2 separate regions of the Homo sapiens genome follow, and region 2 is linked to region 1. The links come from fine-mapping of genetic effects on gene expression. A gene starts in region 1. The other region holds a variant in brackets. All regions are shown on one strand. Distances are from middle to middle. Region 1 holds the start of LINC00539 (long intergenic non-protein coding RNA 539). Region 2 overlaps LINC00539 (long intergenic non-protein coding RNA 539).

The links. PIP is the estimated chance that this variant, and not a neighbour inherited with it, causes the effect. A credible set is the group of variants that fine-mapping cannot tell apart.
Region 2: its variant is the best candidate, but not a certain one, in a credible set for the expression of LINC00539 in whole blood (TOPMed, PIP 0.65).

What each region holds. Positions count from the first base shown.
Region 1 is chr13:21,343,431-21,346,339 of GRCh38, reverse strand. LINC00539 (long intergenic non-protein coding RNA 539) reads left to right here and starts at 1,481. Exons shown (of 3, transcript NR_103841.1): 1 at 1,481-1,674. It also overlaps the pseudogene MIPEPP3.
Region 2 is chr13:21,321,716-21,324,624 of GRCh38, reverse strand. The region is part of intron 2 of LINC00539 (long intergenic non-protein coding RNA 539); the gene reads left to right. It also overlaps the pseudogene MIPEPP3 and the pseudogene GRK6P1. Among named protein-coding and RNA genes, the nearest start is that of LINC00539, 22 kb to the left of the region's middle. The variant T/C (reference allele first, on the strand shown) is at 1,296.

The DNA of each region.
Region 1 (2,909 bases):
GTCTAATTACATGCACGGAGCTTCAGTTCCCTTCTCTGTAAAATGGGGCTAATACTAATAAGACCTCTTCAGGGCAGTGTAGGAAGTCAATGAAACTCCAACATCTCCAAAACCACCCAGCAGATCACAGGATCTTGAAGTAAGCACAGTGTTTGGCATACAGTAGGCGCTCATCAATGCTGGTTCCTTTCACTCTCTGCCACTTGCTGGCTATGTGTGACTTAACCTCCCAATGCCTCCGTTTCTTCATTTTGAAGTGAAAGATGATGCCTATCCTCAACTTCAGACGAGATCCGGCACGTTCAGGGTGGTATGGCCGTAGACCCCAACTTCAAAACAACAGGCACACCCATTCAATTCAGGTAGCACCCTCCAAATGTGCCATGGGCTTAAGAGGCAGGAAGAGAGCCTGGTATGAGCCCACGGCTTCGGCTCCTGTTGCTCACTCTCTGCAGATCCTTGTGCAGTTCTCTGGGGTCACTTGCTGGTCTTTTTGAGTTTCAGTTTTCTTATTTGTAAGCTGGGGATGGTCATATCTCATTAGATTTTTTGGAGGACTAAATGGGACAATAAATATAAAACGCTCAGTACAAAACTTAGTCTATGGTCAGTGTTCAACAAATACTAGTCACTGGTAATAGTAGAACCACCTGCATTATGACACTATTATTTCTAGGCTCTTATGAGGATTCTCATTTACCAGGCATACTAGCCCTGCAAAACGGACACTATTGCTTCCATTATACAGATGAGGAAACTGAGGCTCAGAGAAGCTAAGTAACTTCTTCAAGGTTGCCCAGGCTGGGCGCAGTGGCTCATGCCTGTAATCCCAGCACTTGGGAGGCCGAGGAGGGCAGATTACTTGAGGGGAGGAGTTTGAGGACAGCCTGGCCAACATGACAAAACCCCGTCAATAAAAAATATAAAAATCAGCCAGGCGTGGTGGCACATGCCCGTAGTCCCAGCTACTCAGGAGGCTGAGGCAGGAGAATCGCTTGAACCAGGGAGGCAGGACTTGAGCATGCCACTGCACTCCAGCCTGGGCAATAGAGCAAGACTCTGTCTCAAAAACAACAAAACAAAACCAAACCAAAAAAAGGTTGCCCGGTTGCCCAGTGACAGAGCCAAGTCTTGCTTTCCAAGCTTGGGCTCACTCTCCTACACTAACTACCTGGCCCCATGCTGCCCAGTCCTGGGCTAGCTGCAGGAGGCTGCCGCATTACCCACCTCAAGCCACACAAGCACTGGCAGTAACAAGAGGCCGTAGAGAACCTAGAGTTCTCCAGCGGATGTGGTTCTCTGGCTGCCGTGGGCTGCCAGGGATCCCTTAGATCGCGGACTCCACAGTTCTTTCTTGCCACCTCCAGAAGGAGGCTGCAGCCCCATGAGCCAGGCAGCAGGAAGGGAGGAAGTCTCGCTTCTTGCCAGACACATTGTTTAACTGCAACAGTCAGTCCTCCAAAAACTCTGCCGGAAGTCCACCCCAGAAACTCAAGGGAGGAAACTGACTGCCTTCTTGGGGTTTTCTTAACTGTGCTTTTTCTGCTCTGCAGGAAAGATGCAACCTGGGCCAGAGGCCCCTGGAGGTTGTGCCTGAACCCAGACAGATCACACAAACCTGAGCAGCCATTAGCCGCTGTGTGGGCTCCTTTGCACTGTGGGGCTGCTCCTGGGGTAAGTGTGTGTCTTTGTGTGTGTGTGGGGTTCGGGGGCTGGGATGGCTGACTTACAAAGGACACGCTGTGGCCCAGCCCTGGGCAGCATCCAGCCTGCTTAGGTGGCCTTCTGTGGGCTTGGCCAAAAACACTGAGGCCTTTCTCTGTTTCACCTTCTTGTGCCAACTTGGCTGTGTGTGAACAAAGAATCACAAGCACACACCTGAGTTCACACTTGTGTAAAATTGGACTGAAGAGCTTGGTGAATCAAAGTTCAAGAAGGGTGACTTGGCCGGGCATGGTGGCTCAGTCCTGTAATCCTAGCACTTTGGGAGGCTGAGGGGGAGCAGATCACTTGAACCCAGGAGTTCAAGACCAGCTTGGGCAACACAGAAAGACCCTGTCTCTACAAAAAAATTTAAAAATTAGCTAGGTGTAGTGAGGTGTGCCTATATTCCCAGCTACTCTGGAGGCTGAGGTGGGAGGACTGCTTGAGCCTGGGAGGTTGAGGCTGCAGTGAGCTGTGATCATTCCATTGCACTCCAGCTTGGGTGACAGAGTGGGACCCCATCTCTTAAATTTAAAAAAGAGAAAGGAGAAGGAGAAGGAGGAGAAGGAGAAGGAGGAGGAGAGGGAGAGGAGAAGAAGAAGGAAGAGGAGGAGGAGGCGGGGGGGAGGGGGAGGAGGAGAAGAAGGAGAAGGGAGGAGATGGAGAAGGAGGGCACCTCAGAAGCCCTCAATAAAAACAGGGAGGAAGAGAACAAACACATCAAAGCTGCTGAGTCTGGTGCCAAGAGCAGGGGACTTAAAAGCTGTGTGACTTTGTCATTTGAGTTAACCTCTCTGATCCTCAACTTCTTGTTTGTGAAGTAGGAATAAGATTTTTTTGTGAGTTTGTTCTGAGGCTCATTAGTAACGTACGTAAAGCTGTTGGCTCCTGGTCTCTCTTATCATTCAGGGTTAAGCTTCGAAGTGGGCACAGGTGCTGGCAGCTATGGAATGGTGGGGAGGTTGCAGGGTGGGTCCCCTGGTCACAGAGAGCTTCTCACTGCCAGGGCTCAGAAGCCCCCTCACTGAGAGGCCTCACTGCCAGGGTTCAGAGCTCCCTCACTGGAGAGGGACTTCTTGAGTGTTGCAAGCTACATGGACAGACCATCTATGAGATCAAGCGTCCAGGCCCCTGGGCCAAGCAAATCTTGGGCCAAGATTGTGTGGCTTTAGGGGACATTATGGAGCCTCTGAGGGCCTCAGCTC
Region 2 (2,909 bases), 22 kb after region 1:
CAGACATGAATCGTATTCTACTGTTCTGGGGGTCTAATTTTTTTTTTTAATTCAGAATCTTTGAATCTCTCCCCCAAAGACCTAAGACTAGCTTGAATGTTAGAAGGATCTGTCTCTGGGCTGTATGGAGAAGTGTGGCTGCTATATGAGAGCAGATTCTCATGGAAAAAACATTTTTCCCCCATGGAATTTTCTTCCATGAGTCTAAACCCATCCTGGCTCAGGGCCCTCCCAGTCTCCTGCACTGAGCAAGCAGGTAGGGAGAGAGAAAAGAGGGGTGGTCTGGAGTTTTAGGATCTGCATTTGAATCTCTCCTCTTGATTTGTGACCCTGGGCAAGGCTCTGCCAATCTCTTGTTACCTAGCACCTGGTCTATGCCAGGTCCCAGAGCTTTTTGGGTTCTATCTGGGCCTCAGCATCCACATTGGACAAAAAGGGTAAATATTCCTGCCATGCAGGGTTATTATGACAAATGCAATGAAATAATAAATGTGGAAGGGCTTCTCACAGTGCCTGCCTCAGAGTGGAAACTCAATAAATACTAGGGCATTCTGTGTCTGAAAATCTCACCTCTAATTATTCTCTTTTCCTTCCCTATTATACAAAACAGCAGCAGCAGTAACAGCGACCACAAAATGCACTCCAAGATACTTCTAACCATTTCTTGCTGGGGGAATGTTTGCATCCTTGGTTAGTTAAAACTTTTGTGTTCCTCCCATGTCAGAAGCCCCTGGATCTTGTGTGAAGCTGTGCATTCCCTGATTAGTTTGTTTCTGTCCTTCTGTGGCTTGTTCTAAAGGGCTTTGCTGCTGCCTTCATCTGGGGAAATTCACACACTAATGCAGTGGTATCTCATCCCAATCTATTAGGTGTGACAACTACTGGCAAGAAATAGATTTGTGTTTAATTCTTTGTTGCCCAGCAGGGACCTCTATCACCCAAAGGGAAACAGCCGTCTATCTACGAAGCTGTGATCTCCCCTACAAGCAAGAGAACTCAATTGCCAGGAGGTCTTTGCTTTTTCTGGCTTCCAGAGAATGCAGAAATTTCAAGGAGCCACTATTGGGCTCCTTCCCTATAGGATGTTGGGCCAGGCAACAGAACAAACCTCCTGAGGCACTTCTACCTGGGAATGCCCTCCTGAGGCCAATGGCAGCCCTCTGATGAAGATACTATAGTATTTATTTTTTGTACACGCTGGTGATCATCCAGTGTACATCTCTGCTTAGTGAACCTTCATGAACTGGAGGCTGAATATTCTCATCCTGCATTGATAGAACCACGTAGGCTGGTTC[T/C]AGGCTGTTTTCTGTGCAACACTCAACATGACAATAATAATGATGATGATGCTAATGATGATTGTAAAATCCGCAGTAGTTGCCATTTATTGCCCTATTTGGCTTGTAAGACTTGGCAGATCACAGTGACATACACACACACACACTCTCTCTCTCTCTCTCTCTCTACTGTGTGCCAGGGACTGGACAAAGCACTTTGCATGCATTATAACACTTTTCCTAACAATCCTGCAGCAGGCAGCAGTAGCATCCCCGCTTTATAACTAAGGAAGGTAGAGTTCAAAGAGGTGAAGAACTTGCCTTGAAGTTCAAGGCCATACAGCCCAAAGTGGCAGAATCAGACCTGTACCCAAGTCCATCTGCACAAAGCTGGCGCTTCCACCCTGTACAACATGGTGTGTTTCCAGTGGGCTGTGACTCTCTGGTGGTGGAACCAGCCTTGTCAATTGCTGTCTGCCACATCCAGTCTGACCTGGCTGCCTGGGCATTCTCCCACGCCACGGGCAGCAGTGGTTCTTGCTGCCAGGGCTCCAGGGCATGGGCAGCAGATGGGAGGGAAGGAAGGCCAGCTGTGCAGCTCTGCCAAGCTGAGAGGCGGGGTGCCTATTGATTGACTGAAATTCGATTTGTTGACACAAACTGCCAGCATTTCACAGTGATGAAAGGATGGCCCACCAACCTCATAACAAGCAGAGATTTCCCTGAGGGTCACCAGAGCTGCTGATGTGGCTCCTCTGTGAGGAGAAGAAAGCAATTAGGAGAATGGATGAGGTTATTAGGTCTTATTGCTTCCCTCAGCTCCTGCACACACTGAGTGCTGTGCGGCGTGGGATTTCAGGCTCCCTGTCCTACGTGCTGCGGATTCTGTTTGCGCCTCTTCCACTGCAAAAAGCCAGCTGGGGGACAAACAGCTCATGTACGCTGACTCCAAGCATGTGGAGAATGCACACACAGATTTAGGACACCAAAAGAAACCTGCAGGTGGAACCAGCTTTAGCAGACTTTAAAAATAACAAGATCATTGGAGTATAAATACAAATCCATGAATGCATGAGGCACACCCGTCTCTCCCTCGCTTTCTCCATCCCTTTTTATGTTTTGTCACATTACAAATATTTAGACTGGTTTGATTTAAAAGATCTATTCAGGTAAGCTGGCCAACTACACGTCTATGCAGATGGGCAGGGGAGGAAGAGGAGAGGAGGGTATGTTCTGTGAGGACAGCATTGGTTTAGCAAGTGTTTATCAAAATCTGGAATATGCACAGCAGTAGGGGTGGGTGTATGAGGGGGAGAGGTAAGAAAATATCAGGAATAATGTCACCTTATATTGTATAAGTGGGTTTTTGCAGCAAAATATACATAACATAAAATTTACCATTTAACCATTTTAAGTGCACAGTTCAAGAACATTAAGTACTTTCACATTATGTATGGCACAGCCATCACCACCATCCACACCATCCATCTTCAGAACATTTTTATCTTCCCCAACTGAAACTCTGCCCTCATTAAACAATATCTCCCTATTCCCCACTGCCCCCAGCTCCCGACAACCAACATTCTACTTTCTGTCTCTATGAATTTCACTACTTTAGGTGCCTCATATAAGTGA